4 separate regions of the Homo sapiens genome follow, and all the other regions are linked to region 2. The links come from fine-mapping of genetic effects on gene expression. A gene starts in region 2. Each other region holds a variant in brackets. All regions are shown on one strand. Distances are from middle to middle.

Region 1 (5,340 bases), 46 kb after region 2:
AGACTGACTCAAAAAAAAAAAAAAATCATATCATTACGTGCCTCTCTATTTGCTATACAATTGTTGTAATAAAGTACAATGCGATTAGTATATACTTTTCTAATTGATGGTTCATCCAGAATAATCGAGTGAAGGCTATCAAAGGCTAATATGTGTTAACTTGCCATTCCATGCTCTTCTCAGTTTTATGCCCCTGTTTGGAGGCATAGACTGATGTTCTGGAGAATAGTTTTGACCAATTATAGTTAAGTGCTGGTAGTAGTACGAAAAGCCCTAAAGAAGATAAGCAAGATGTTAAAATGGGAGTTTTTAGTAACTTGCAGCAACCTTTAAGATCAGGAGGCTGTTGGGAGTTGCTGGAAGTCCCTTGATATCAGGAAGGGTATGGTAAACATCAGTGCAGTTTCAGAGGACAGATCAGTAACAGTATATATGACCTGGAGTAGAGTGTGCTTAGAGGCCTGTTTATGACCTTAGGGGATCTCTACAAGAAGGAAAAGTGATTGCCAAAGTCCATAGGGGCTGAGTGTGGCGACCTTGCCATTCTCTACAAGAAGGAAAAGTGATTGCCAAAGTCCATAGGGGCTGGGTGTGGCGAGCTTTCCCTTCTTAAGAGTTGTGTATGTACCTGCCTCACAGAGAGGGTAAATGAAGTAACATACATAAAACTGTAACACAATATTTGGATCTGTTTTAGCTGGGCATGGTGGCGGGCATCTGTAATCCTAGTAGTGAAAAGGTCATTGGTCAATTAATGTTAGATGGTGTTATTGGTATATTCTCTTGTCTGTGGGATTAGATTTCTTATAATACTTGAAGTACTTATATCTTGTTTTAATTTTTCCTCTTCTCAGGGATTTGAGAGCACCTCCAGAACAAGGAAAGATTTTTATTGCAAGGCGCTCTCTCTTAGAGTGAGTATTTTTAGTTGTTTTTAAATATGTTTGATTTTTAAAAAACTATTCTGATAGAATCATTGCTTAGTATATGGACATGTAATGAGTTCTGTATCTGTATAAATCATTAGTGGGTTTTTTTCTTCTATGCTCTCTCTTGCTCCTTTCTGATCTTTTGGTTCTGTATCTAGTTTCAAAAGAGGAGTTAGGGATAAGAATGGTTATCTGGGCTTGGCACTGTGACTCACACCTGTAATCCTAGCACTTTGGGAGGCTGAGACAGGCAGATCGCTTGAGTCCAGGAGTTCAAGACCAGTTTGGGCAACACGGCAAGTCTCTCTCTACAAAAAATACAAAAAATTAGCCAGGCTTGGTGGTGCATGCCTGTAATCCCAGCTACTCAAGAGTCTGAGACAGGAGGATCGCTTGAGCCCGGAAGGGTGGAGGTTGCCATGGGCTGAGATTGTGCCCCTGCACTCCAGCCTGAGCACCAGGTGCAACACCCAGCAACTCCAGCCTGGGTGACAGAGCAAGGCTGTCTCAATAAAAAAAAGTGTACTTTTCTTTAAAAAGACATCTTATGCTTATCAAAAGTTACTTTCTGTGAGTCAAGTTGATGTTTACTACTTCCCCTAGATAAGAAGGCCGGTTTTCTAAGCATGTAATGTGCTGTTCAGTGTTTTCTAAGCATGTAATGTATAGTGTTAAGTGTTCTGTTACACTGTAGTTTGAAGGAATTAATCTTTTAAAGTTTACATCTGGGGGAAAACGCAGGCTTTTCACATAAAAGGGAAAAGAAAATTTATTTTAAACATTATAATTAGGATTTTAATGATAGAATTTATACATGAAAAATAAACAAAATTACATATTAAAAAAATTTTTAACCAAGGAAACAAAACATGTTTTCTATGGCTTAGATGAGTTTTTATTAGACTGTGAAGATCCTTGGTCCAGAGATTGAGTAGTAGTATATTAGATTACTCAAAATCATTTAAAAGATTAGCATTATCTTTCCAAAAACAAGTTAAAACAAGTTTAAAAACCTGTTTTAGTCAGATATAAAAGATTATTTAGGAAAAGTCATCTATATTATTGTTATATTCTAAAAGAAAATTAGACCAGTCTTAAATACAAAAGTCAATGAGAAGGTAAAATCTTTGTAAATGGTTGAGTTTTATAGACGTGTAGGGTAGTAATTGGTTATCATCATCATCATGATCAACATTATAGAAACTCATGTCAATTTTAACATTTTGGAAATAGGTAGTACTTAATATATATTAAATTTAGGGAGTAGAATATGAATAGGATTAAAAAATTCTTAACATTTGAAATAGTTTGTTTCCTGTTTTTAGTGACTGGCCTTTGTTTACTTAGAAAACATCCATTTCTGGTAGGTTTTAAAGAATGTAGACCATTCTTTTTTGAGATGTTTTTGGAGAGTGGATTAAGCATCTTCTCAACTGCTTTAAGTTAACTGCTTTAAGAAAAGATTTTATGGTGTTTTAAATTTAAATATACATTATTAACTTGTTTTGTTTGAACTACATTTACAGTGAACTGCTTGAAGTGGACCACATCAGAACAATATATCACATGTTTATTGCCCTCCTCATTCTCTTTATCCTCAGCACACTTGTAGTAGATTACATTGATGAAGGAAGGTAAGACAACAAAAAAGATGGCTGGCTAGTTGATGCATGAGAAGTTAGAGGTTTTCACTAAATTTTGGTAAAGGGTAAATTGATTAAATTGCTTCAGGAAATCCTAAAGCAGCAGATTTGAGGGTGATATTCCTTTGCCCTGAAAAGTTTAACTGATGGAGAAAATTAGAAGTTTCATTACTTTTATTTTTAAAATGGTTTATTTGAATAGACCATAATCAGTAATTTCTAGGTAATTTTCCCAAATGGGAGAACTTTATACACAGTTGACCTACGAACAGCACGGGTTTGAACTGTGCATGTCTATTTATAC[A/G]CAGAATTTTTTCAATCAATGTGTTTAGCACTCTGTATCCATGGGTTCTACATCTGCAAGCAAAGGCTGATTGGGATCTAGAGTATTCCAGGATGCAAAACACACATATAAGAATGGCAGATTTTTCATATCTGTGGGTTCCACGGGGCCAACTGTGGGCCTCGAATTTGCATAAGTTTTGGTGTCTGCACAGTTTCCTGGAACCAACCCCCCATGTATAGGGAGGGATAACTGTATATGACTTATTAACTTTTTGATTGTCTTTATTTAAGATGGTTACTTAAAACAAGTAGCTTATTGGAATTGAAGGTTGAAAAAGTTGATATTTCTTTTTAATGTGAAAGTCAAATTATAGGCCAGGCATGGTTGCTTGTGCCTGTAATCTCAGCACTTTGGGAGGCCGAGGCGGGAGGATCACTTGAGCTTAGGAGTTGGAGACCAGCCTGGGCAACATCTCTACAAAAAATTTAAAAATTAGCTGGGCGTGGTGGCAGACACTTGTAGTTCCAGCTACTCAGGAGGCTGAGATAGGAGGATCGCTTGAGCCAGGGAGGTTGAGGCTGCAGTGGAGCTGTGTTTGTGCCACTGCACTCCAGCCTGGATGCAAAGGAGACCAGATCTCAAAATAAAATTTTAAAACTCAAATTGTAGCTTAAAAAATGACAGCGTGGTAATCATGGATTGAATTATGTACTTTTTTTGAAAATTAAGTTTGGAGATAATGGTATAGTATATTAACATATTTTTAAATTGTACCTATTTCTTCTGAAAAATCATCTTTTGTACATAAGAACGATTGCTGTTTGAATATTTTCCATAGAATATTTTACAGTTAGAAAATTAATGTGAGAATCTAATCTTTCAGAAGTTCAAAGTCCAATTATCTTAGATATCTTAAGTTTGAAGACTGTATTTATCTTAGGGCTTTTAGAAAATTTGTTTCTAAAGAACATATATTGTTGATATATATATATATATATATATTGTAAAGCAGATGGTTAGAAGCAGATCTCTAACTAGCAGAACTATTACATCCATGACTTCAGCGTATTAACGTTGTGGTGTTTCCTAAGGTTGAAAGTTTGGTGTTTGAAACTTTTAAATTCTGTGAACTCAGTGTATATTAAAAATTCACCTCTATGTTCTTTTTCTGTACCTTTTCTCCCCAGGCTGGTGCTTGAGTTCAGCCTCCTGTCTTATGCTTTTGGCAAATTTCCTACCGTTGTTTGGACCTGGTGGATCATGTTCCTGTCTACATTTTCAGTTCCCTATTTTCTGTTTCAACATTGGGCCACTGGCTATAGCAAGAGTTCTCATCCGCTGATCCGTTCTCTCTTCCATGGCTTTCTTTTCATGATCTTCCAGATTGGAGTTCTAGGTTTTGGACCAACATATGTTGTGTTAGCATATACACTGCCACCAGCTTCCCGGTTCATCATTATATTCGAGCAGGTAAGGTTTTAAGTGTTACCCAAGGCGATGCTGTCCTCGGCTAAAATAATAATAATGATGATGACATACTGATACTATTATTTTTAGCTGTATTAACTTGGATAAATTTTCATATATTGTTCTTTTGCCATTATCTGTAAAATTGTTAAACTAGAATCATCTCACCTCTTAAGTTTCATTGTAGCTTCCATGTTCTCTGAATTTTGATAAATAAATTACGTTGAACTTTTTTTTTTTTTTTTGAGACAGAGTCTCGCTCTGTCACCTAGGCTGGAGTGCAGTGGCACCATCTCGGCTCACTGCAACCCCTGCCTCCCAGGTTCAAGTGATTCTTCTGCCTCAGCCTCCCAAGTGGCTGGGACTGCAGGCGCCTGCCACCACACCCGGCTAATTTTTGTATTTTTAGTAGAGATGGGGTTTCACCATATTGGCTAGACTGGTCTCAAACTCCTGACCTTACGATCCGCCTGCCTCGGCCTCCCAAAGTGCTGAGATTACAGGCGTAAGCCACCGCGCCCGGCCACATTGAATTATTTTTGATGCATCAAGATTTTGTTTCTGAATACTTTTTGTAAAAGTCATTTAAATTATAAAATATTTTCATAATTAAAAACTTCACTTTTGAAATGTCAGATTCATTGTTTTGTCATGTAACTATATAATAAAGGTTTTATTTTAATTTGTTTATACACTTATCAGGATTTTCTGACTTTACTGGCTATCTATAATGCATTTGACTAATGGAAAGGACACTTGCAGGAGACTTTCTTTGAAGAGACATCTTTTTCCTCCTGCTTTTGTAGATTCGTTTTGTAATGAAGGCCCACTCATTTGTCAGAGAGAACGTGCCTCGGGTACTAAATTCAGCTAAGGAGAAATCAAGTATGTAATTTCTTTTGTTCATTATTTCTTCCTCCCCTCCCCTCCTCTCCCCCCACCCCATTCCCTTCCCTTCCCTTCCCTTCTTTCCTTCTTTCCTTCCCTCCCTCCCTCTCTCTTTTTCTCTTTCTCT
Region 2 (5,340 bases):
ATTTTCAGTGCAGTGGTGGGAGAGGCTTGGAGTCTGAGCACAGGCTTTGGAGTCCCTCCAATCATATATCATCTTTGCCCTTGCACTAAATGGTATCCCCATCCTCTCAATTGCTTAAGGAAACAACCTGGGAGTCATCTCGTTTACTACCTTTCTTCACACCTGCACCTCGGGAAAATATCCTGAAATCTTTCAATTTCTATTTCCACACCAACCAGCCTAGTCCAGGTACCACCATCTACCCCCTGAACTTGCCCAATAACTTTGTATTGTTCTTCGGCTCCTTTTTGTTCCATTGCTGCTCCCTTCAAGTCATTCTCTATAAAATAGGTTGATTTAAAAAAAAAAATAAACCAATGGCCGGGCACGTGGCTCATGCCTGTAATCCCAGCAGTTTGGGAGGCTGAGGCGGGAGGATCACTTGAGCCCAGGAGTTCAGGACCAGCCTGGGCAACACAGCGAAACCCTGTCTCTACAAAAAATACAAAAATTAGTCTGGTGTGGTGACGCCCACCTGTAGTCCCAGGTACTAGGGAGGCTGAGGTGGGAAGATGACTTAGCGAGCCTGGGGAGGTAGAGGATGCAGTGAGCCCTGATTGCACCACTGCACTCCAGCCTGGGCGACAGAGTGAGACCCCATCTCAAAACAACAAAAACCCAAACCCTTCATTATCTTGCCTTTGCACTTAACAGATAAATCCAAACAACGTGATTAGGTTCCTGCTTAATGCTCCAAACTCAACTTCAAACCCCTATTTGACATGCTCAAGCCTCCTGGCCTGTTCCTCAAACAGCCACGCTTCAGCATCAGCCACAGTTCAGCATCGGGGCCTTGACACCCATTATCCTCTGTCTAGAATGTTCTTCCTCCCCATGGTTGGCTTGGCTGGCTCCTTCTTGTCATTTAGGTCTTAGCTCCTGAATTATCTCCTCAGAAAATCCTTCCCTGACCATTCTGTTTTGTTTTCTGCTCAGTACTTATCACTGCCAGTGATTATCTCATCTATTCGTTTTATTATTTATATTCTTCATTAGAAACATAAGCTTTTGTTGTTTGAGACAGAGTCCCACTGTGTTGACCAGGCTGCAGTGCAGTGGCATGATTTTTTGGCTCACTGCATCCTCCGTCCCTCACCCCCCATCCCCCACCACAAGCAATCCTCTTATCTCAGCCTCCCGAGTAGCTGGGACCATAGGGGCCTGCCACAATTCCCAGCAAATTTTGTTGTCATTGTTGTTGTTGTTGTTGTTGTTTTTAAATTCTGTAGAGAGGGAGTCTCACTATGTTGCTCAGGCTGGTCTTGGACTCCTGGCCTCAAAGTGATCCTCCTGCCTCAGCCTCCCAAAGTGCTGGGATTATAGGCTTGAGCCACCTGTTTGTTTCCTTTCATACCTAGTCCTGCAGAACATAAGCCTCTAAGTGCAGGGGCTTCTTCTGTTTATTCACCACTGTATTTCTAGCACCAAGAATACTATCAATATTTTTTGAATGAATGAATCAAACAGTGAAAAGGCCAGTCATCTTGGTGTATATAGAAGGTAGCCAACAGAGACCCAATAGAAATGAGTGCCTATGTTCCTACTGCTCTATAACTAGTGGGAGTGGGGAGGGGAAGCAGCTGGGGGTCTACCAGACCCTGTCACCAACTAGTCAGCACACGTGGCAATCACAGTTGTAGAAGAGGCCAAACGGAGCAGATCTGCCAATGACAGCCAGTACTAAACTCGACTGGATGCTGAGGGCCATTTCTGCTTTGAGTGAACAGTGCAGCCTGCTGGGTGGCCAAGGGAACGTGTACAAATCCACTTTGTTTAAAGGACCCAGAGAGTAGTCAGTTCTGCTAAACCTCATCTGTTTGTTCAGGGATTTTTGTCCTGGGGAGGAGTGGGGAAGAAGCGATTAGTCAGGCCAGGCTAGCTGGTATTAGTTTGCAGGCTGTGAGTGCGACTCTTCAGTCTCTGCTCCTCTCATCATTGCCTTTTCACCTACCTTTACCCTAAATTTACGTACACCTCTGCCTTCACAAATTCCAAGCGATTAACTGTTGTATTTAATCTCTGTCCCAAATCTCTCTGCATCATTCTTCTTTTGATTATGAAGTCACGAGGGCCCTTTGTTTATTTTATTTTTAAAACTTTTTTTGAGAAGGAGTTTAGCTCTTATTGCCCAGGCTGGAGTGCAATGGCACAATCTAGGCTCACTGCAACCTCTGGCTTCCGGGTTCAAGCAATCCTCCTGCCTCAGCCTCCCGAATAGCTGGGATTACAGGCGCGCGCCACCAAGCCCGGCTAATTTTTTGTATTTAGTAGAGACGGGGTTTCACCATGTTGGTCAGGCTGGTCTCGATCCTAACCTCAGGTGACCCAGCCACCTCGGTCTCCCAAAGTGTTGGGATTACAGGCGTGAGCCACCGCACCTGGCCTCAAGGGCCCTTAAATATTACTTAGTTGTTCCATTATTTGGTGTGTTTTATTATTTGGTGCAGGTTTTTTCCCCTTATCTAGTTTGAATGTTGCTGAAGGACGCTGGTTTTCAAACGGTAAGGAATCTCCTGATAAAGGCACGAATCTTGGTGTGCAGATAAGCCAGCGATTCTTGCTTCTGGCTAGTTCTACGTTGTTCCTGGATGGTCAGTTCAAACTGCAATGATCCACAGCTCCAGAAGCGGCTTCTTCCAGTCGGCCTAGGAGCCAAACGCCCCTGCAGCTCCATGCTACCACGCAGGGTGCCGTTTCGGGCTTGCAGGGAGTTGTCGCAGTCCCGTTTTGGCTGCACATTCTACTGCTGGGGTGGAAGTGTCAAGCAAGATGTTGTCGCCGGTATCATGATGTCCGGGTGAGAAGCTTCCTTGGCAGGTTGCCAGGGCCAGCCTGCGAGCACTGGCGCCGGGGACCCGCGCGCCCGGGAAGGGGCGGGGAGGTGGGCGGAGCCTGGCAACCTGGGGACCACCAATAGGATGCTCAGCCGGAGGTGGCCCTGCGCGTGACGCAGCGGTGCTCGGAGGCAGGGGGCGTAGGGGCCGGGCTGTCCGGCGCTTTAGCTTAGCAGGCGACGTTGCGGGCCCTGGGCGCCAGGAGAGCTTCCCGGAGTCGACCTTCCTGCTGGCTGCTCTGTGACCGCTTCCCGGCTCTGCCCTCTTGGCCGAAGTGCCCGCTGCCGGGCGCGGGCCTCAGGTAACGGTGGTGCTCCCGCGCCTCTCCTCGCTTCCCGCTTGGGTCCACCGGCCTCAGCCCGCGGGGAAGGGAGAAGCGGTGGCGGCAGCAGCTCCGGCCCGGCCTTGTCCTGGGCTGTGCTGCGGAGAAGGCGAGGCTCGGCGACTGCAGGGGAGTTGGGGAGGGGAGGGCGGGAAAGTTACCGTCAGGCGCCCGGGTCACGGGCAGCCTTTTAAACCCTGCACGCTGGTTTGGTGTTCCGCAAATCTCGTGGCATCTCTCAAGTCAGTAGTAAAGAAAGTTAGGAATTAGAAGACGTTTTATTCTTTAAAAAGCGAAACCAAAAATGCACTCAGGAAGTCAGCTTTTTAATGATTTAGAGAAAATGTGTGAAGGGAAGGATGGTATTAGCAAGACATGAAAATCTGTAGGGGCACCAGAACCTTTAATCAAGCTCATGTTTTATTGTAAAATATTAGGATGTAGGTAAGTTTCTGTTTTCCCTAAGTGTTAATGGTCATGTAATTTAAATAATATGTATATTGAAAGGTTATTTCTAAGTGAGAAACAACTATATAAACTTTATTCTCCGTATATATATTTAGGTTAAGTTCGTTGGTCACTTTTGTTTGTTTGAGACGGAGTCTCGCTGTGTCGCAAGGCTGGAGTGCAGTGGCGCAATCTCGGCTCACTGCAACCTCTGCCTCCCGGGTTCAAGCGATTCTTGTGCCTCAGCCTCCTGAGTAGCTGGGATTACAGGCGTGCGCCACCACGCCCAGGTAATTTTTGTAGTTTTAGTAGAGACGGGGTTTCACCATGTTGGACCAGGTTGGTCTCAAACTCCTGACCTCAAGTGATCCGCCCGCTTCGGCCTCCCAAAGTGCTGGGATTACAGGCGTGAGCCACCGCGCCTGGCCTGTTGGTCACTTTTTAATATTTAAGTGGCTGCCACCTGTTTAAACCACTTTTTTCTTTTTTTCAGCCTGCTTGATTTCCTCTTCCTTGAAGTAGAATTCAATTTGAAGCTTTTTTTTTTTCTTTTTAAAAGTTGGGCGGTGTCAGTGAATGACTTGTTAAGGAAGTCTGTGCGTTGTCTGGGTGTGAGAATGGGTTTTGGAAGGAGCTCTGTGGCACTGAATTATCGTTTAGAAATGCACGTGTTTTAGTGAATCACATGCTTAGAATGCATCTGAGGTTTCGCAGTCTTTTAGGATAAAGACCTACTGAGTGAGCACACTCTATCTCTGGTTCATTTGGCCCACTTTCCTTCTGGCTTTCCAGGTTCATGCCACACTGGCTTTATTTTTGTTACTGGAAAGCTTCATTTTCTTTCCTCTCTTGGCTTTTAGGAGTTTCCTCCACCTCTAATGCTGTATTCTCTCCCTCCCTCCAACTCTTATACCTGCCTCAGATATCAGCCCACATATCACTTCCTCTGGAAATCACCCCATCCCCATTAAGCCCTCCATGAACTCTTTATTCTCCTTAGCAGAAGTTGATCATTAATTGTAATGAATTAGTTGCTTTGTTTCCTCTGCTAGTGCATTTCATGAAGGCTGGTTTAGCCTGTTGTAATTTTCAGGGTCTGGTCCAGCACTTGGCCCAGAGAAAGAATGAATAAGTTGGTGGACAGAGGAAGGAACTTTTGAATGAGAAATACAGTGATCCCCACTTAACTGCTTTCTGTAGTTTCAGCTACCTGAGGTGCGAAACAGAGTACAATAAGACATTTCGAGAGATACCATGTTCAAGTGAATTTTAATACAGTATATTGTTAATCTCTTACTGTGCCTAACTTTTTGAAACTTTGCCTCCCAGGTTCAAGGGATATTCATGCCCCAGCCTCCCAAGTAGCTGGGATTACAGGCGTGTCCCAGTACGCCCGGCTAATTTTTTTTTTTTTTTTTGAGATGGAGTTTGGCGCTTGTTGCCCAGGCTGGAATGGCACGATCTCGGCTCCCCGCAACCTCCGCCTCCCGGGTTCAAGCGATTCTCCGCCTCAGCCTCCCAAGTAGCTGGGATTACGGGCATGTGCTACCACGCCCGGCTAATTTTTTTTTTTTTTTTTTTTTTTTTTTTTTTTTTTAGTAAAGACTGATCAGATCTTACTGGTCAGGCTGGTCTCGAACTTCCAACCTCAGGTGATCCACCCGCCTCAGCCTCCCAAAGTGCTGGGATTACAGGCGT
Region 3 (5,340 bases), 61 kb after region 2:
TCCTTCCATTTCTCTTGATTCTATTTTTGTTTTTGGTAATTCAGGTTTCATTTATTCTTAGGACTTTAGTTTTTAGCTATACATGGGTACAGATTTTAGGAGGATGGCTTTTTTTTTTTTTAAGAATTTTATTTTCAAGTAACACAGTATAGGACATAGGAATTTCCCAGCAAACACTCTGGTTAATTTAATTGATGTGATCTGGTTAATTAGATCTACTAGCACTAGCTGAAAGTACTGCTTATAGTTATGGATAGAATTTCATGATGGAAACACCCTAAGAAGTAGGATTGCCAGGCTTTTTGTGCATATAGGGCGTGTCCTATATTTAACATTTTTGTCCTGCCTCCTGTATTGGGTTTCTTAGAACACCCCAAATGTCCTATATTCTGCTTTTTTCAGTAAATTACAAAAAATATGGCAGATAGAGCTATTTGTCTCAAGTTCATCTCGGCATCCTGTACTTGTATTTGCTAAATTTGGTGGCCCTACTAATAATTCATTCAATCCCTACAACCTTCCAGGTTTGGAGGGGATACCTTCTTGATTTATTTCCTGGGTATTTCTCATAGGCATCTGTAACTGAAGATGTCCATAATGAAATTAATCAGTTTCCTCTCCAAAGCTTCCCCTCTTTCTGTGTACCCTATGTCTGTTAGGCTGCCTCAACTCTCCCTCTTTATTTCATATTAATCTCCTTTGTTCATCTGAAGTAATTGCTCTTGACTGTCCCTGGTCACCTGGATTCCACATGTCAGATTTTATTCTCCTATCAAAATCCAGTTTGGATGCCACATCTTCCATGATGATTTTTCAAATGCTTGCTTCCCTCTCTTTCCTATTTCTGAACTTTTGTAGTGCTTCATTTGCTCCTCCTTTGATAGTTCAGTAATTTTAAACCTTGTATTAGTCATTTTTATATATATGTCATTTATGTATATATTAGTCATTTATATATGTGTATATATAATATATATTTATATTTATATATTTATTTATATATTATATATTAACTAATATATACTAATATTTAGTACCTTAAAATCTAAATGGTGGTTATATATAAATATATATATATATATCTATTTGTCGTCCTTAACCACCATTTAGATTTTAAGGTACTAAAAGTAGGGCTGTGCTAAAATAAAGATACAGAAAGAAATAGTGCCTATTTAGAAACTGGTCAAAGTCCACACAATTGTGTATAGTTTACTGGACTTTAAAAGCTTTATGTGAAGCACCTAATTGAATAAATCTGTGTTATAGATAAAAGTACTGAACATCTTTTGAATTAGTGAGCTGCTTATACCTTGAGGGTTGTTGAAATGGTGGGAGGCATTTTAGAGATGTACAATGTATCATATTAACATCCCTGCCTATCTCCACACCTCCTCTACTCTGTACACAAATTATTTTTCCATTCTTATTTTTCCCCACTGCAGCCCACATTTTTGGATTATGTCCGGCCACGTTCCTGGACTTGTCGTTACGTGTTTTAGAAGCTTGGACTTTGTTTCCTCCTTGTCACTGAAGATTGGGTAGCTCCCTGATTTGGAGCCAGCTGTTTCCAGTTGTTACTGAAGTTATCTGTGTTATTTGGACCACTCCAGGCTTTACAGATGACTCACTCCATTCCTAGGTCACTTGAAGCCAAACTGTTGGAAGTTCACTGGAGTCTTGTACACTTAAGCAGAGCAGAACTTTTTTTGTGGGGCTGGGTGGGGGGAGAAGACCGACTAACAGCTGAAGTAATGACAGATTGTTGCTGGGTCATATCAGCTTTATCCCTTGGTAATTATATCTGTTTTGTTTCTTGACTCTGTCCAATCAGAGAATAAACATCATAGTTTCTTGGCCACTGAATTAGCCAAAACACTTAGGAAGAAATCACTTAAATACCTCTGGCTTAGAAATTTTTTCATGCACACTGTTGGAATGTATGCTAATTGAACATGCAATTGGGGAAGAAAAAATGTAGAATGATTTTTGCTATTTCTAGTAGAAAGAAAATGTCTGTTTTCCAAAGATAATGTTATACATCCTATTTTGTAATTTTTTTGAAAAAAGTTCAATGTTCAGTTTTCCTTAGTTTTTACCTTGTTTTCTCTATAGGTCATGATTTCTGTGAAGCAAAAAGATGCCTTTTACCATGAATTCTTGAGTTTACATCAATAATATTGTATATTAAGGGGATCAGAAGTAGGAAGGAAAAAATAAGAGATAGCAGAGGAAAAAGAAAAACATTTCCTCTTATAACTTCTGAAGTAATTTGTAAAAAAGATTTGTAGAGTCAATCATGTGTTTAAATTATTTTATCACAAACTTAACATGGAAGATATTCCTTTTTAACTTTGTGGTAACTTCTTTGAAGTTATTTAGAAATATCCTTTGGAACAATTATTTTATTGTCTAATAAATATTGACTTCTCTTGAATTATTTTGCAGACTAGTGAGTCTGTACCATAAGTATTAATCACCTCCACTCATATTAAAGTGATCATTAAGAATCCAGAAGCTGGCTTCTGCATTTGCTCAGTTATACTTTTAATGGTAGTATGTTTTTAGGTGGAATAAATTAATATGTGATTGGTTTCAAGGAAATGTACTCTATTATGTAATACTTCCATTTTATAAGATGCCCATTTCTAATACAATGTGTGTAGGAATTATTTGTATGTATGAGGTATGATTGTAAAGATTGAGCATTGGAAGGGGTATCAGAGACCATGTAGTTCAACTTTCCACTCAAA[G/A]TAAGATTTATGAATTATTTAAATGATAGTTGTTACTTGGAACAGCCACTTGAGAGGCTCTCTTGGTATTGTTTGGAATTGTTTTAAAGTCAGTTTGAGTCTCACAAGAAGGTAAGTAGAGTTTCTTAATAGTCACAACTTAATTTGAACCACAAGTATCCAGCTTAATCACGTATCTTACTCACGATACCACTGGTCCAGATGAGTTTAGGTAATTTTCAAACATTAAATCCAACTTCAACGGAAACAAATACACTCAAGGGAAGTTATTTTTAAAAAGGTACTCTGCATGTTCCCGCAGTAATGTTCTGCACAACAGTATTGTAATTGTAATGGAATCATAACCTGCTAACTAGTTTGCTTTAATATGGCTTGTAATTCTTGACATTTTTCTTAAAATTAAAACGAATTTTTATTTTGAATTTATAACTGCATTTTAAATATATTGGGGACAGATTGCGCTGAGACCTGGTTATGAGCAAGCCAATCTTTTGAATCTAGAGAATGGAATTCTTAGGTTTATATTTCTGTTAAGAAATACTATAAATATGACTCTTATGAGAAGACTTTGTTGCTCTGTAGTGTTTCTGAATACTGTATTTGTTGGATTGATCAAGGCTATTTTTCAAAAAGCTCTCTGCTTCCTGTTTGTTTGTTTGTTTGTTTTTGAGACAGAGTCTTGCTCTGTCGCCGGGGCTGGAGTGCAATGGCGTGAACTCAGCTCACTGCAACCTCTGCCTCCCTGGTTCAAGCTATTCTCCTGCCTCAGCCTCCTGAGTAGCTGGGATTACAGGGCCACGCCTGGCTAATTTTTGTATTTTTAGTAGAGATGGGGTTTCACCCTGTTGGTCAGGCTGGTCTCAAACTCCTGACCTTGTGATCTGCCCACCTCAGCCTCCCAAAGTGCTGGGAAGACAGGCGTTAGCCACCGTGCCCGGCCTCTGTTTCCTGTTATTAGTGATTTTCCTGCCCAAGATTGCAACAACAAATATGTAGAACTACAGACTGTTTAGAATGCTGAGACTGTTCTAAGAAACTTTCAAAAACAGTAGCACTTCAAGGAATGGTCACTTTCTATGAAAGAAACTGGTTTGATAGCCATAATCTTATTGCTAGCTGCTTTTAGCAAAAGTCTTTTCTTGAAACCACCACCTATACTCTTTAAACAAATAAAAACTAAAATCTCTTGCTAATGTTTCAGGAAGATTTATTTTTTCTATTTTGCTATTGTGGCGAAAATTATTTTCAGTTATAGGATACTTTTTTCCTTCTGAAAAGTAATAAGCTTAAAGTTTTTGTTTCTGTAAGATGTAATGATAGTAACTATTATTTTGGGCATATTAACCAACAGAACAATTATGTAGTATGTATATCACTTTCTCATTAGATCTCTAACTTGACCTTCTAGTACCTTTATGTGTGAGGATAAATTTGTTAGATCCTTTTATTCTCAATCTTGGATAATGATGCAAAATGGAATTTTGTTTTGTTTGTTGGTAGATTCACATACTAAAACTTTGCAGGTAAAGTTGCTTGCCTCATGTTAGAATTTAATTAGAAAACTGAGGCTGCCTTTTTTTTTTTTTTTTTTTTTTTTTAAGACAGAGTCTTGTTCTGTCGCCCAGGCCAGTTTTTTTTTTCTTGTACAGATGGGGTTTTACCATGTTGCTCAGGCTGGTCTCAAACTCCTGGAGTCAAGGGATCTATTTGCCTCAGCCTCTCAAAGTGCTGGGATTACAGGTGTGAGCCACGGCTCCTGGCTCCTTGCTCCAGAATCAGTTTTTTAATGGAAGATAGCTCATACTTTGTTTTTGTTTTTAAAGAGACAGGGTCTCACTCTGTTGCCCAGGCTGGTAGTAGCGTGATCATAGCTCACTGCAGTCTCAAACTCCTGGACTCAAATAGTGCTCTGGAGTACCTAGAACTACAAGTGCCTACCACCACACCCAGCTAATTTATTTGTTTTTTTTTTTTTAGAGATGGGGGGGGTCTCCCTATGTTGCCCAGGCTGGTCTCAAACTCTTCACCTCAAGCAAAACTCCCACTGCAGAAAGCTTTGGGATTACAGGCATGAGCCACCATGCCAAGCCCATACTTATTGTTAATAAAGTTTCAGTGACTTGCTTACTAATCTTATGCAAAATTTCATGTAATTTATGTAATACTACATAACAATGCTACATATGGTATGTATACATACACTGTATACACACAAAGGTCTGTTCTGGGTATTTTATGTATCTTATCTCTAGGCTTTATGGCTCTGAAATGGAGGGAACTGGACATAAATGTTTCAAGGAATAAAGTGAATGTTTTGTTTGTTTGTTTGTTTTGAGACGGAGTCTCAGTCACCAGGCTGGAGTGCAGTGCTGTGATCTCAGCTCACTGCAACCTCTGCCTCCTGGGTTCAAGCGATTCTCCTGCCTCAGCCTCCCGAGTAGCTGGCATTACAGGTGCCTGCCACCATGTCCAGCTAATTTTTGTGTTTTTAGTAGAGATGGGGTTTCACCATGATGGTCAGGCTGGTCTCGAACTCCTGACCTCATGATCCGCCAGCCTCAGCCTCCCATAGTGCTGGGATTATAGGCAT
Region 4 (5,340 bases), 210 kb after region 2:
GCCACTAGCCACATATTGCTATTCACATTTGAATTAATTTATTTTTATTTTTTGAGACAGAATCTGGCTCTGTTGCCCAGGCCGGAGTGCAGTGGCACGATGTCAGCTCTCTTGAACTCTGCCTCTCGGGTTCAAGAGATTCTAGTGCCTCAGCTTCCTGAGTAGCCGGGATTACAGGCACAGGCCACCATACCTGGCTAATTTTTGTATTTTTAGTAGAGACAGGGTTTTGCCATGTTGGCCAGGCTGGTCTTGAACTCCTGGTCTCAAGTGATCCACCCGTCTCAGCCTCCCAAAGTACTGGGATTACAGGTGTGAGCCACCATGCCTGGCTGAATTAATTTAAATTTAAAAATTCACCTCTCCAGTCATATTAGCCATATTTTAAGTGCTTAATAGTACATGTTGCTACCAGGGATCATATTGGACCACACATATATAGAACATTTCTATTATTATGGAAAGTTCTATTAAACAGCACTAATCTAGGTGTCACAATCAAGTTTCCAACAGTTTTTTTTTCAACTTGACAAACTGTCTCTAAAAGCTGTTTTGGATATTCAAAGAACCAAGAATAGCTAACACACTTTTGAAAATAAGGTGAGAGGACTCATCCTCCCATATTTTAAACTTCTTGTAAAGCTAAACTGAAACAGCATGGTGTTAGTTCAAAGATGGACAACTATGTCAATGGAATCAAAAAACAGAACCAAAAATTTATGGCCTTTTATATAAGCATGGCATACAGAATTAATGAGGAAATGATGAACTTTCCAATTAAAAATACTAGGGGGCTGGGTGCAGTGGCTCACGCCTGTAATCCCAGCACTTTGGGAGGCTGAGGCGGGTGGATCATGAGGTCAGGAGATCGAGACCATCCTGACTAATACAGTGAAACCCCATCTCTACTAAAAATACAAAAAAATTAGCCAGGTGTGGTGGTGCACCCCTGTAGTTCCAGCTACTGGGGAGGGTGAGGCAGGAGAATCGCTTGAACCGGGAAGGCGGAGGTCACAGTGAGCCAATCACGCCACTGCATTCCAGCCTGGGCGACAGAGTGAGACTGTGTCTTAAAACAAAACAAAACAAAACAACAACAAAAAAACTCAAAAACTAGGAATATTGGCTATCTATATAGGAGAGATGAAATGAGACTTTTACTTCACACAAAAATCAATTCCAAATGGACTAGAAACCTACATGTGAAAGTCAAAATTATAAAGCTTTTAGAAGACAATATCTAAGATCTTGGGGGTAGGAAAATTTTTTTTAAGTAAGAGATAAGAAGCACTAACTCAAAGGGAAAAGGTTCATAATTTTGATTACCTTAAATTTAAGAATTATTTTTGTCAAGAAAATACCATTAAAACAAAAACAATCCACAAAATGGGAGACTGTATTTGCAACACTTATAACTGACAAAGGACCAGTATCCAGAATAGAAAATGACCTTCTAGGAATCAATATTATAAAAATACACAACCCAATAGAAAAATGGGCAAAAAGCCTGAATGTATACCTCACCAAAGAGAAAATCCCAATGGTTGACATACTTATGAAAAGCTGCTCAATTTCATAAGTGATCAGGGAAATACAAACTAATATCACTACTTACATAACAAGCTGGCAAAAATTACAAAGTCTAGGCCGAGTGTGGTGGCTTACGCCTGTAATCTCAGCACTTTGGGAGGCCGAGGTGGGCGGATCACCTGTGGTCAGGAGTTCAAGATCAGCCTGGCCAGCGTGGTGAACCTCTGTCTCTGCTAAAAATACAAAATTAGCCCGGCATGGTGGCACGCACCGGCAGTCCCAGCTACTGGGGAGGCTGAGGCAGGAGAATCGCTTGAACCCGGGAGGCAAAGTTTGTGGTGAGCCAAGATTGCACCACTGCACTTCAGCCTGGGCAAAAGAGCAAAACTCTGTCTAAAAAAAAAAAAAAAAAAAAAAAGAAATTGCAAAGTCTGGCAATACAAGTGTTAACAAGAATGAGGGAGCAACAGGTACTTCTATACTGCTGGTAAGAATATAAATTTGTACATCCACTTTGGAAATCAGTTGACATTATCTGTTAAAGTTGCAACACACTTTGCAACAAACAATTCTATTCATCTGTCAGTATACTAGATAAGCTCTTACACAAGTGCTCTAGACTAAGAGACATACATAAGAACATTCTGGCCAGGC[G/A]TGGTGGCTCACACCTGTAATCCCAGCACTTTGGGAGGCTGAGACGGGTGGATCACCTGAGGTTGGGAGATCAAGACCAGCCTGACCAACATGGAGAGACCCCGTCTCTACTGAAAATACAAAATTAGCCAGGCGTGGTGGCGCATGCCTGTAATCCCAGCTACTCAGGAGGCTGAGGCAGGAGAATCACTTGAACCCGGGAGGCGGAGGTTGCGGTGAGGTGAGATCGTGCCATTGCATTCTAGCCTGGGCAAAAAGAGCAAAACTCCGTGTAAAAAAAAAAAAAAAGGATATTCCAAGATTATTTCTAGAAGTATCCTCAAACTGGAAACAACTCAAATGTCCATAAATAGTAGAATAAATATTATGAATATTATGGTATATGAGGACTGGCATGTAGGGAGCAATTCTCTCTTTAAACTGCATATGTGTATTTTATGTCTCTCTGTATGTATGACAGATCTCACAGTTTTTGAACAGTTTTATAACTATTATAAAACTGTTTAAAAACTTTTATGTTATAAAATTTATGTACAACATCTTGCTAATACATTTTAAATCTCTAGGAGATGGAGACTTTTCTAGGAAAATAGTATCATTAATCCTTGAAGGAGAAAATTGGCCAATTTTCAGTGAAAAATTGGATGCACTAATTTTTAGAAATGCTAAAAATTTTGCCTGGATTCCTCAGACAGGTTTTTTCAGACTTTTTTTTAATTTTTATTTTTATTTTAATTTTATTGTTATTATACTTTAAGTTTTAGGGTACATGGGCACAATGTGCAGGTTTGTTACATATGTACACATGTGCCATGTTGGTGTGCTGCACCCATTAACTTGTCATTTAGCATTAGGTATATTTCCTAATGCCATCCCTCCCCCCTGCCCTCACCCCACAACAGTCCCCGGAGTGTGTGATGTTCCCCTTCCTGTGTCCATGTGTTCTCATTGTTCAATTCCCACCTATGATTGAGAACACGCGGTGTTTGCTTTTTTGTCCTTGTGATAGTTTGCTGAGAATTATGCAGACTTTCAAGGAGTAGGGTAATCCCCATGCTATATAAACAGTGTAAGAGCATAGATAACGACTGAAAGTATTCCCATTTTATTTCACATAGCTACTAATGTCCTTTAAAAAGTCCAGATGAGTATAGAGAAAATAAATCTTATGTATTAATATATAGGTGCTAAATCCAAATTTAAAATAGCAAATTTAATGTGGTAGAAAATTACAAGACTAAAACACCATGAACATTTAGGGTGTATGTCAGGGAAGCAATAATATTTTACTATTTGAAAATATGCTACTATAGGTATATATCACTTCTCATCTAAGAGTTGAATGAAATGTCTGAGTTCTCATTTTGGTTCTGGGAAGGCTTCAGAAGGATTCTTCACAACAGGCTGTTATACTTCTGAACCAAGCAGTCTCTTGGAACCCACACTATACATCTAGAAATGTGTTCAAGCCTTCTCAGGCCTGCTGCGAATAGCCCCTTCTTCTGTCCACCCCAGGATGTGGTGGGGATCCTGATTTTGGCAGGCTGGACCTGCCACAGATGGTGGTGGAGACCCACTGGCCAACTCTATGACACACTTAGTCCTCATTTACCTAAAAGTGGGTAGAGCTCTGTGTGGCGAGACCAGGTTTTCAGATAAAGGTAATCTGGAATGAGGATTTCAAGATGTTTTGAGGTGTATCTCCCTATAAAAGTTAAGGCTATAGCCATATGGAGGACACTATCATGAGGAGCCCTTCCTGAGGGAACTTCAGGGTTCAGGAACTTATAAAATTATCCAGATGAGGAGATTTTGTGGAAGCCTTGTGCTATGGCCATTCATTGCCCTGCGCCACCCCATCCCCTGACTGGATGCCCATAACCTGACCATCTCTTTGAGGACCTACACTTTCCACTAGTGCTACTTTGGTCCTCTGTTAAGCTCTTTCTCACTCACTAACCGTTCTCTAGTGATTTCAGATAAATAAACTGGGGGAGTCTTATCAGAGGAGGCTGAGAATCTGCTCTCACACCAGAGGTAAGGCTGTAACTGAGCCTATGCAAAGGCCTTCTTCTGCTAAGAAAATGCATATGCCTTTTCCCTAAGCCTGAGGCCTCTCAAGGGTATATCAAGCGAGTTTATGGTAAGGGGCTTAGCAGACCATACTGAGGTACTCTTTAAAAAAATGGTTAGTTCCATCTTCATGAAGGTTATTTTTATTTCAAATTCATCACCATCCTGGACTGCTACCATCTTCTCCTGATCTAGACAAACCTCTATGGTACATGAATCTTTATGACATCAGACTTTGGGATTTCTATGGCCTCATCCACATCCCACAAGGTGAAAAGAAGATGGTTTTCCAGAGAAGCCTTGTCTAATGCAGCTCTATGGTAATGCTGTGTGGCTTGTGCCACATTCTAGCATTTGACCTACTAGACTGATATTTGGATGACATTAGTGAGAGTTTCCCACAAGCTAATGTTTCTGCTTCTTTCCAGCCAAGGAGATTTGCATGATGCTGGACAGGGTTCAGAACTGAGGATCTTGGCCAGGTGCAGTGGTTCATGCCTGTAATCCCAGCATTTTGGGAGGCTGAGGCAAGCAGATCACCTGAGGTCGGGAGTTTGAGACCAGCCTGGCCAACATGGTGAAACTGTGTCTGTACTAAAAATACAAAAATTAGCCAGGTGTGGTAGTGGGTGCCTCCAAGCTACTCAGGAGGTTGAGGCAGGAGAATCCCTTGAACCCGGGAGGTAGAGGTTGTGCCGAGCCGAGATTGCTCCACTGCATTCCAGCCTGGGCAACAGAGCGAAACTCCATCTCAAAAAAAAAAAAAGAAAAAAGAAAAACAGAAAAAAATTGAAGATCTCCTAGGTAACCATCTTTTGGAGTTTGATCACCCCTACTGATATAAATTCTTACTCCACTTTCCATAACAGTCTAGGTAAATTGCTTCTTCAGAAACAGATAGGGATTATCTAGTTCCCCAAGAGTACTAAGGCAGTCCAGGGGCTAATTATTTACCATCCACCTGATCCTGGCATAGCTTGATCCAGTCTGACCTCATACAGCGGGAGGCCATTTTTTAGGAGGACTCAGTTCTGAGAATCCTTGCTCCTGTGCCTATTTCAGACAGAAACTGATGTCATTGTA

Evidence for each region. PIP is the estimated chance that this variant, and not a neighbour inherited with it, causes the effect.
Region 1: its variant is the best candidate, but not a certain one, in a credible set for the expression of SOAT1 in whole blood (INTERVAL, PIP 0.86).
Region 3: its variant is the best candidate, but not a certain one, in a credible set for the expression of SOAT1 in whole blood (INTERVAL, PIP 0.69).
Region 4: its variant is the best candidate, but not a certain one, in a credible set for the expression of SOAT1 in whole blood (INTERVAL, PIP 0.51).

What each region holds. Positions count from the first base shown.
Region 1 is chr1:179,336,983-179,342,322 of GRCh38, forward strand. It overlaps SOAT1 (sterol O-acyltransferase 1), which reads left to right. Exons shown (of 16, transcript NM_003101.6): 5 at 855-914; 6 at 2,456-2,563; 7 at 4,046-4,328; 8 at 5,132-5,210. Among named protein-coding and RNA genes, the nearest start is that of AXDND1, 26 kb to the right of the region's middle. The variant A/G (reference allele first, on the strand shown) is at 2,877.
Region 2 is chr1:179,290,763-179,296,102 of GRCh38, forward strand. It overlaps SOAT1 (sterol O-acyltransferase 1), which reads left to right and starts at 3,035. Exons shown (of 16, transcript NM_003101.6): 1 at 3,035-3,174. RefSeq lists a silencer at 2,830-3,019 and an enhancer at 3,232-3,739.
Region 3 is chr1:179,352,143-179,357,482 of GRCh38, forward strand. SOAT1 (sterol O-acyltransferase 1) reads left to right here. Exons shown (of 16, transcript NM_003101.6): 16 at 1,443-5,340. The coding sequence ends at 1,499. Among named protein-coding and RNA genes, the nearest start is that of AXDND1, 11 kb to the right of the region's middle. The variant G/A (reference allele first, on the strand shown) is at 2,751.
Region 4 is chr1:179,500,638-179,505,977 of GRCh38, forward strand. The region is part of intron 20 of AXDND1 (axonemal dynein light chain domain containing 1); the gene reads left to right. Among named protein-coding and RNA genes, the nearest start is that of NPHS2, 73 kb to the right of the region's middle. The variant G/A (reference allele first, on the strand shown) is at 2,185.